Regions from separate parts of the Homo sapiens genome. Here region 1 is linked to region 2. Evidence: fine-mapped expression QTL. A gene starts in region 2. The other region holds a variant in brackets. All regions are shown on one strand. Distances are from middle to middle. Region 1 has its middle 28 kb from the start of TCF23. Region 2 holds the start of ATRAID (all-trans retinoic acid induced differentiation factor).

The links. PIP is the estimated chance that this variant, and not a neighbour inherited with it, causes the effect.
Region 1: its variant is fine-mapped to the expression of ATRAID in transverse colon (CEDAR, PIP 0.90).

What each region holds. Positions count from the first base shown.
Region 1 is chr2:27,174,174-27,179,550 of GRCh38, forward strand. No RefSeq gene overlaps it. Among named protein-coding and RNA genes, the nearest start is that of TCF23, 28 kb to the left of the region's middle. The variant T/TAC (reference allele first, on the strand shown) is at 2,605.
Region 2 is chr2:27,209,317-27,214,693 of GRCh38, forward strand. ATRAID (all-trans retinoic acid induced differentiation factor) reads left to right here and starts at 2,725. Exons shown (of 7, transcript NM_001170795.4): 1 at 2,725-3,151; 2 at 3,861-3,982. The coding sequence starts at 3,053. It overlaps SLC5A6 (solute carrier family 5 member 6), which reads right to left and starts at 2,952. Exons shown (of 17, transcript NM_021095.4): 1 at 2,704-2,952; 2 at 2,151-2,217. RefSeq lists enhancers at 795-854, 809-1,606 and silencers at 2,389-2,708, 2,899-3,148.

The DNA.
Region 1 (5,377 bases), 35 kb before region 2:
TCTTCAGCCACCCATTTCTATGGTCATGCCCTTAACCTTGTCAAAACCAATAATACACCATTCTCAGAATCTCTATTTTAAGCATTCTGATTGGATATTGTGATCCCTATGTCTTATCCTTCCATCTCAGTCTCATGCCTGCAGTCCAGTATTTCTTCAGTCTTCTTGAGACCTTTAATTCATTTGCTTCCTTCTGTCTTACTAACCATCTTCCCTCGTGTCCTTACTTCCTCTTTATTCATCCCAGATTCTATGTTCATTGTTGTAATTGCTCCTTTGCAAATATCCTTATCCCTTACCCCTCCTCTCCCACTGTTTTTGCGTTGCAACATCCCGACCCTGCACGGTCTTCCCACTCTACACTTCATCTGAACACTGCTGGAAATGAATACACGATTGTGTTCACTGGCCTGCCTCAAAATTCTCAACCAAAAATCTCAAATAGGCACTCAACACTCTGTGGCAATCTTCCCTGATATGTTTTCTTTCTTACATTCTAACACATTTATTTCTCGCCTTCTTTTTTCTCCTCAGAACCTCTCAGCTTGCCATCACCACGTACTTCATGACAAAAACAAGAGCAATCAGGCAGTAATCCCCTGTTTTCAGACAGGCTGCAGTGAGCTGTGGTCGCACAAGGCTGCAGTGAGCTATGGTGGCGCCAGGCTGCAGTGAGCTATGATTTCACCAAGGTGCAATGTGGCTGTTACCACAGCTACCCATTTCCCAGCTGGCGTGTCCAGGCTCACCATGGGTGATGCGCCCCTTCCCACCAGAGGCCTGTTCTTTTCTGGGGCCAGAATCCCACCCCCTCTTGCTCTTCCAAAGGGCCTCACTCCTAAAATTATTCCCTCTGCCTTCTGCATCCTCAGCTTCTCGCCCTCCACTGGATCATTTCTCTCACGTATATTAGCATGCAAACACTCTCTAGCATGGCATCTCCCATTAAACAAAACTCCTGACCCCACTTCCCCACCTTAACTACCACCACATTTCCCTGGCCTGCTGCATAGCAAAAAAATTTAAGTGCTCTCTATTATTGCTGTCTCCATTGTCTTTCCTCACTCACTCACTCCAATCAAGAGCCCATCTCCAGCTCACTCCTACAACAGCACTGGTAAGGTTATTGGTGGCCTCCCTTTTGCCAAAGCTGATGTCGATTTCTGTGGTCTTGTGTCGCTATGTTTTTGTGTTTTGGGCATCATTTGATTTCACTACTCCATCTTTTCTCTTCTTTCCTTTTTTTTTTTTTCTTTTGAGAGACAGGACCTTACTCTGTCGCCCAGGCTGGAGTGCAGTGGTGTGATCATAGCTCAGTACAGCCTGGCAGCTCACTCCTGGCCTCAAGCAATCCTTCCACTTTGGCCTCTGGCATTACTCCCAGCTCCATCCTTCTTGAAACACTTCTCTAGGTTTCCTAATCAACTCAGTCTTCTTCCTGGCTCCTTCTCCCCGTTCTACTTCTTTTTTTTGTTTGTCTTTGTTTTGAGATGGAGTTTCGCTCTTGTTGCCCAGGCTGGAGTGCAATGGTGCGATCTCGGCTCACTGAAACGTCCGCCTTCCGGGTTCAAGGGATTCTCCTGCCTCAGCGTCCCGAGTAGCTGGGATTACAGGCGTGTGCCACCACGCCTGGCTAATTTTGTGTTTTTAATAGAGATGGGGTTTCTCCATGTTGGTCAGGCTGGTCTCGAACTCCCGACCTCAGGTGATCCACCAGCCTTGGCCTCCAAAAGTGTTGTGACTACAGGCATGAGCCACCACACCCAGCCCTCCCTGTTCTACTTCTAAACCTAAAAATAGTGTGAAGAAAATCAGCAAGGCAAAAATCACTATCAGCATAATCAAAAGGCAAGTGTCAGACTGGACAACAGTATTTGAGCTCAGGTCATAAACATAGGGATAATCTCCCTAATATTTAAAGAGCTCCTAGAAATCATTAAGAAAAAGACCAAAACCCCATAGAAAAATGGAGAAAGAATATAAACAGACAGATCTCAGGAAGGGAATACAAATGGCCAGTTAGCAACACAAAGAGAGAGGCCAGCTCATTAATAATAAAGGGAAGTGTAGATTAAAGCTACACTGAAATACTGTCTCATAGCCAGGCACAGTGGCTCACACCTGTAATTCTCAGCACATTTGGAGGCTGAGACGGGTGGATCACTTGAGGTCAGGAGTTCAAGACCAGCCTGGCGACCACGACGAAACCCTGTCTTTACTAAAAATACAAAAATTAGCTGGGCACAGTGGCGCGCACCTGCAGCCCCAGCTACTTGGGAGGCTGAGGCAGGAGAATCACTTGAACCTGGGAGGTGGAGGTTGCAGTGAGTTGCGATCATGCCACCGAACTCCAGCCTGGGTGACAGAGTGAGACTCCTTCTAAAAACAAAACAAAACAAAACAAAACAAAAAAAACCCATCTCACCTATCATATGGATAAAAACTCAAAGTTTGACAACATGCTCTATGGGAAACAGTTCTTTCTCATATTTTGCTGTGACAGTAATGTGAAAAGAGATTTTAAATGGATAAGACGAAAAGTACAAAGCAGTGTGTATTTTATGCTACCAGATCATACATCATTTCTGTTTTATTTGCATAAGA[T/TAC]ACACACACACACACACACACACACACACACACACACAAAACAATAAAAAGCAGTTACTTGTTCTAGTGGAAACTGGAGCAGATGGGGGATAAGGTGAAAGTGAGTCTTGTTTTTTTTTTTTTTTTTTTGAGATGAGGTCTTACTATGTTGCCCAGGCTAGAGTGCAGTGGCATTATCACAGCTCACTGCAGCCTTGAACTCCTGGGCTCAAGCAGTCCTTCTGTCTCACCCTCCCAAGTAGCTGGGACTACAGGCGCCACACACCACCAAGAGAGTGAATCTTTCAAGTGTATGCCTTTTTAGGTTATTTGACTTGTAAACTATATGAAATGTATAATTTTTTTTAGTTTTTTAATTTTTTTTTTTTTTTTTTTTGAGACAGAGTCTCGTCCTGTCACCTAGGCTGGAGTGCAGTGATGCAATCTCGGCTCACTGCAACCTCTGCATCTCAGGTTCAAGCGATTCTCCTGACTCAGCCTCTTGAGTAGCTGGGACTACAGGCATGCACCACCATGCCCGGCTAATTTTTGTATTTTTAGTAGAGAGAGGGGTTCACCATGTTGGCCAGGCTGGTCTCAAACTCCTGACCTCAGGCGATCTGCCCACATCAGCCTTCCAAAGTGGTAGGATTACAGACATGAGCCACCACACCTGGCCAGTTTTTAAATTTTTTATCTTTATGAGACAGTCTCACTCTGTTGCACAGGCTGGAGTACAGTGGTGTGATCGCGGCTCACTGCAACCTCTGGCTCCTGGGCTCAAGTGATCCTCTCACCTCAGCCTCCTGTAGCCTCCCTCCTGTACCTGGGACTACAGGCACATGCCACCACACGCGGCTAATTTTTGTATTTTTTAGTAGAAACAGTGTTTCATCATGTTGCCCAGGCTGGCCTTGAACTCCTGGGCTCAGCAATCCGCCCGCCTCAGCTCCCCAAAGTGCTGAGATTACAGGCATGAACAACCGCACCTGGCCAATTTTTTTTTTGTTTTGTTTAATGAGAAACAAACAAATATGAGTTCAAAGAGTTTCCTGGGGAAGTTTTTCTGTACAATAGTTCAAAGAACACAGAGAAATGCGTTTCATCTTCAAAGGAAGTTAGGGCATTATTATAAGCAGGGTGTGTAGATCCTGAATTGGACTTTAGTCCTGTACCATTCGGAGGTGATCATGATGGCCTGGATGGATGTTTATGATGACAGGCACCAGCATCACCAAGCATGCATTGATCTATTTGAATACTTTCCACCAGATCCATGACTTGGCCATGTACTGATTCCGATTTTATCAGCACGTCAGCTAACACCGTTATCTGCTTTAATCACAACTTTTACCAGAAGCATTGGCATCAGTTGGACGCTTCTAGCTGCTAGGCAGAACATACTCAAACCAAATAGCTTACACAATAAGGACAGCCATCATTTCACATAAGATGATGTCTGGAGGCCAGGTGGTCCACGATTGGCTCAGAGCCTTGATGAAGTCATCACAGATCCAGGTCCACCGATGAATTTGTCTTTCTGCCTTGCTATCCTCAGCAGGTTGATGATGCTTTCACTTTGGGTTTCAAAATAGCTGTAGCAATTCCAGACAATATGTGAAGATATGACTTGATCCAGCAAAGGAGAACAGGAGAAAAGGGGGTGCTTCTTCTCATGCATCTGTTTTTATTGGAATAATATAGAAATAAAAACTTCCTGACGTAATTTTAAGACAAAAATATGCTATATAAGTAACTGTATTACTAATTTTTTTCTTCTTTTTTTGTTTTTTGAGACAGGGTATCCCTCTGTCACCCAGGTTGGAATGCAATAGTGTGATCTCAGCTCACTGCAGCCTCCACCTCCTGGGCTCAAGCAATCCTCCCATCTCAGCCTCCAGAGTAGCTGGGATTACAGGTGTGCGCCACTATGCCCAGCTGATTTTCAAATTTTTTTTTGTAGAAATGGAGTCTTGCTTGTTGCCCAGGCTGGTCTCAAACTCTTGATCTCAAGTTATCCACCCATCTCCACCTCTCAAAGTTCTGGGATTACAGGTGTGAGCTACCTGCCCGGCCTGTTTCTTAGTTCTAATAGTATTTTTGGTGTATTCTTTGGGATTTTCTATATACAAAATCATGTTGTATGCAAATGCAGGTGGTTTTACTTCTTCCTTTCCAATTTGGATGACTTCTATATATATTTTTCTTGCCTAATTGTTCTGGCTAGAACTGCCAGTACAAGGTTGAATAAAAGTGACAGCAATAGGCATCTTTGTTTTATTCCTGATCTTAGGGAGAAAACTTCAGTCTTTCATCATTAATTATAATAGTATTAACTGTGAGTTTTTCATAAGTGCCTTTCATCAGGTTGAGGAATGTCCCTTCTATTCTTAGTTTGTTGAGTGTTTTTATCATGAAAGGGTGTTGGATTTTGTAAAATGCTTTATCTGCATCTATTAAGATGATCATATGGTTTCACCCCTTCATTTCATTAATGTGGCATAGCACATTAATTGATTTGCATATGCTGAACCACAGTTGCAATCCTGGGATAAATCCCACTTAGTCATGGTGTAAAACCCTTTTTGTGTGCTGCTAGTGTTTTTTTGTTGTTTTTTGTTTTGTTTTGTTTGTTTTTAGAACCTGTGTTCAGCCAAGCTGCTAGTTTTTGTTTACTAATATTTTTGAATATTTTTGCACTGTATTCATAGGGGATGATGTTCTGTAGATTTCTTTTCTTGTGATGTCTTTGTCTGATTTGGGGCAGGGGGCAGGGAACTCACAAAGTGCCAAA
Region 2 (5,377 bases):
GCCTAACATGACGACAGTTAACATTTGCTGAACACCTGCTATGTAACCCAGCAGTGTGTGAGGTGCTTTATAAACATTAGTAATAATACATAATGAAGCTAACATTTTCAAAACAGCATGTCTCAGATTAAGACACGAATACTCTCCAGTTAACACAAGAAAACTGAGAGATTAAATAACTTGCTCAAGGTTATGCAGCATGATACAAAACAAGAGAGAGAGAAACAGTGCTGTCTGCAGCTATGACAGGTGTTCAGCAAGGGCCCTGTCCTCACTATTCCCAGAACCAGGACAGGAGCAGAGTGTTGCAGTCAGTCATTCACAGGACATAGTTTAGATTTCAACTAATCAAGAGACAGACTAACATAAACTATGTCTTCTGCTTTTGCCCACTAGGAGAAAGATTAGGCTGCCTTTCCGCTCTCCCACAGTGTGTTCTTGGGCAGACACTGGCTGGCTGGCAAGATATGGCCTCATGCAGACTAAACCTGAACTCTGAACCTCTTGGGGCCAATAAAGAGGGAAAATCAGACCTGGCAACTCTTGGATCACATGTTCTACAAGATTCCCAACAGGCTTAAACTCTGGTTTAACCTAAACATGCCCTGGGCCTTTGCACATTGCAACACCCTGAGTTTTCTCATTCGTCTTTGGCAAGTTTTTACTGCTATGATAGAGATGATGGGAACTACTGGGGAGTAAGAGGAAAGAAGAGGTCTCCTGTGTGCAAAGAACACAGAACAAAGAACTAACTATAGGGTTAGTGGTTTAGAGAGGTAGGTGGCCAGAGACAGGAAGGAAAGTCCCAGTATGGGACACGGAGGTACAGAAATAAAGACACTCTGCTGATGGGACTTCCTGATAAAATTCTATTTGCATGATGTATGGAGAATTCCCCTGGATGGCCTGAGAGAGCCCCAGGGAAGACAGGAAAAACCTGACCTAGCAACAGACCAGATTCTGAGAACAGATCTGTAGTTTTCTAAACACCCTACATTGATCCAAACGCTATGGTCTCGCATCTCTCCAGAAAGAGGGCGGCCAAAAGCAAGAGCTAGCTGTTGTTTCACTACAACTATAACATGCCAAGGCACAAACAGCAGATTGTGGGACCCCCCCCCCTTTTTTTTTGGAGACGGAGTCTCGCTCTGTCGCCCAGGCTGGAGTGCAGTGACACGATCTCGGCTCACTGCAACCTCCACCTCCTGGGTTCAAGTGATTCTTCTGCCTCAGCCTCCTGAGTAGCTGGGACTACAGGCATGTGCTACCGCGCCCAGCTAATTTTTTTTTTTTTTTTTTGTATTTTTAGTAGAGACGAGATTTCACCATATTGGCCAGGCTGGTCTCAAAACTCCTGACATGACGATCCACCTGCCTTGGCGGATCGGTGGCCTGGCCACCGCGCCAGGCCAAGTTCAGGTTTTTAAAAGGGGTCCCACATCACTGCCTGTAATCCCAGCACTTTGGGAGGCCGAGGCGGGCAGATCACGAGGTCAGGAGATCGAGACCATCCTGGCTAACACGGTGAAACCCCGTCTCTACTAAAAAATACAAAAAATTAGCCAGGCGTGGTGGCAGGCGCCTGTAGTCCCAGCTACTCGGGAGGTTGAGGCAGGAGAATGGCGTGAACCCGCGAGGCGGAGCTTGCAGTGAGCCGAGATCGCGCCACTGCACTCCAGCCTGGGCGACAGAGCGAGACTCCGTCTCAAAATAAAAATAAAAATAAAAATAAAAACCTGAACTCACTTTGGTCACACACTGCAGTGGATCGCATTGACTCCTACAAAAGGCAATGAGACCACTGCAGGACTAACTGTTCCAAAAAGATTCCCTCAAAATCTGTCCTGGGGCCTATAATTCCTCAAGGTGTGAAAGGCTTTGGGGGCCCTCCTTAAAATGCTAATAGCTACTAACACCTTAGAAAATTTGCCAGCCAGCTAAACGTAAACCTTTCAGGAACTTCCAGGCAGACACCATGGGGGTAATGTGGAAGGGAAGCCTGGCTCGGCTACTCGAGATGATCACTTGGGTCGGCTTTAAGGAGCTTTCTGGCTGGCCCTAACCAACACTGTCGCGCCGGGAGCAGGGATCCCCTGGCGCCCTTCAGTCAGGGCGCTGGCCCACCCTGGGGCAGCAACGCACTCCCTTACCTCCGTGGTTCAGTCAGAGCTAGGAAGGTCCCTTTGTGCTTCCTGAGATCAACATCGCTCCCTTTTCCTGGGAAGGCAAAGAAAATGAGTTAGGGAAGCGTCTATCCCGCTCCTACCTCCTCGCCAGGCTCCGGGACGCTATGCGCTATCAGCATTGAGGTGAAGAGGACTAGGTGCCCGGGGCGATCCAGGCTCGTGTCCTCCCGCTGGAGTTTGAGGTTTGCCCTTCCCTCATCACCCTCACCCTCGTTCTTTCTCGGTTTCCCGCTTCCCTCTACGCGGCGGAGACCACCACCTTACCGCTCGCACTTAAGATCTCAGACCCACGCCGGAGGCCGGCTCGCTCCGCCCCTCCCCGCCCCCTTGTCCCCGCCCCGGCTCAGACGCCGCTCCCCGGTGCCTCTCGGCACCGGCTCACGCTCTCCAGGCCCACCTGCCCGGTCTCCACACGTGGGTAGCCAGAGCCCGGCCGAGAGCCCTGGCCGGGAGCCCGCGGGGGCCCCGCCCCCTGCCCGCCCCCTGCCCGCCCCGCTCGCCGTGCCGCCATGTTTACTGAGGGCGGATGGAGGGGCCCGAGTTTCTGCGAAGCCGCGACCTCGGCGTCCGGACGCGGGGAACACCGGGCTGAGGGAGTCTGCAGTCGGCTCCGGGAAGCCGCGCGGCGACGGGGGAGGCCTTCACTAAAGGGGAAAAGGAAGAGGGGGTCGGCCAGTATCCCCGAAAGAGGGCTAGGGCGCATGAAGACCAGCGCAGAGCTCCACGAGCAGGAAAAGCCCCCAAGCAGCCCCAGGGCGACTGGACCGGGCCGCTTAGGCCACGCCCGGGGAAGAGGGCCTGACGCGCTGCGGGGCGGGGCCGCGGGGCCGGGTCGCGCGAGCAGCGGAGCACCAAGGGAACGGAAAATGGCGCCTCACGACCCGGGTAGTCTTACGACCCTGGTGCCCTGGGCTGCCGCCCTGCTCCTCGCTCTGGGCGTGGAAAGGGCTCTGGCGCTACCCGAGGTACAGAAGCAAGTTTGAGGTCGGGCTGAAGCAGGGTCGCTGGCCAGCCGTGCGTCGCGCTCGCCAGCGGCTCCCCCTTCTCCTCGGCGGGCCTGCGGTTCTGATTTCGTCCCTGACGCTTCCCGACCCTGCCCAGCCAGGTCCTGTTCCCAAGTACTCACGTCGTGCAGGCCTTCGGCGCCCCAGTCCTGCCGACTTTCAAAGACCTGTGAAACTTGATTTCGCCCCTTAATTTTAGAATAACTTTAAGTTCTTTCTACAGACGGGTCCTCTGCCTCTTGTGTAATCTCTCTACGCACGAACGCCATATATCGTGCGGTGGTAGGGCTGTACTTTTGTAATGCTTGATGAGTTCTTTACGTACCTGCGGTCGTTTTACACCGCGCCAAACTAGGGCTGTCAGATTGAGAAGTCTCTGCAGAAAGCATAATAAATAAGTTCGAATAGTGATCTTCAGAGATGAGGACCTTCCCTGTGCGATATCTGGTACTGAAAGTGTCGGGAGCTGATTCGGCGCAGGACTCTGGAGGAAGAGATGGCATCTCCTAGCCTAGCCTGTTACAAGGGTGGGACACGAGCCGTTTATCCATTTATCGGCCCCGTGTTAGAGGAATTCTGGAAACGTGTACTGGCAGTTAATTCTTGATCGCCGTTTGTTCTTTTCTTGGCTTTTCTTTCTGGAGTTCTAATGTTTCTTTCTCTTCTGCAGATATGCACCCAATGTCCAGGGAGCGTGCAAAATTTGTCAAAAGTGGCCTTTTATTGTAAAACGACACGAGAGCTAATGCTGCATGCCCGTTGCTGCCTGAATCAGAAGGGCACCATCTTGGGGTGAGGGGAAGACATCCCTAGATGCTGGATACAGGCCATTCCTTAGCCTGGCTGCTTTTATACCCTTATATTATTTAAAGAATCCACCTATTATGGTTTCAGCTGTAATCATCACGCAGATGTCTACCAAAACTAGATCTCTTTAGTGTCTTTTTTAACCTTTCCACACTCCAGGTACATACGGGTACCTCTAGCTTCCTATTAAGCATTTCCTACTGAGTGCACCCTAACTTCAAACTCAAAATGTTATGTTTTGCTTCCATTCTCTTCTTTCCTTCATCTACCTAAATACTTCTCTGTATTAAGCTTTTAGAAAACCAACATTTTCCATTATCACTCTCTTGCTTTAATACTATATTTAGTATTAAATTTTGTCTCAGGACAAAATTCAAACCATTAAGTACCATACTAGTCCCAACCCACTTTTCCAACATTATTTCCAATTACTTGTCCGCTCAAACCTCCATAATGGTCTGCACCAGCCAGATTTGCCTGCCCTCAAAGGCATTCCACCTTTGTTCAGGCCTCTCTCCATACCTGAAATTGCCTTCCTCTACCAAATTAGGAAATATCCATCCTTCAATTCCAACATCTTTTGTGAATATTTACTACTACTAAGTTCCAGAGTAATACCTTTTTTAAATTATTATTTATTTATTTTTTTGAGACGGAGTTTCACTCTTGTTGCCCAGGCTGGAATGCAATGGCATGATCTCGGCTCACCGCGCCCTCCACCTCCTGGGTTCAAGCGATTCAGTAATACCTTTTTTAAAAACTTCCTGTAATCTTTAGTGTCCACTCAAATATATTTATACACTGTCCTGTGGTTTCTTTTATATTGTAATTTAATGTTTACAGTGCTTTTATTTTTGGGCAGTGCTCTTGTTCCTCTAACTACATTGTAAGCCACTCAAAGGCCAAAATACTGTGTTACATATTTTTAACATTCTCCCAGTGTTTGCAGTTTGTAGGGACTCAGTAAATATTTGTAGAATAAAGGAATGGATAGCAGTAGATATTGAAGAAAAAAATAACGTGGCATGATCCTTAATGTCCAGCAGTTTACAACCAATCTGTGGTAGAAAATACATGTGGAAAAAAACTTTGATTTATGTGACTTTTTTTTTTTAATTTAAAGGCCCTCTGTGGATCTGAAAATCATAATATGAGATTCACTAATGTAGACAAGAAACACAGATTTCTCCCAATAGATGCATAACCGATTAGAACAGTGCTGGCGGATAGAACTTTCTGTGATTATGAAAATGTTCCGAGCCAGGCGCGGTGGCTCATGCCTGTAATCCCAGCACTTTGGGAGGCCCAGATGGGCGGATCACGAGGTCAGGAGTTCAAGACCAGCCTGACCAACATGGTGAAACCCCGTCTCTACTAAAA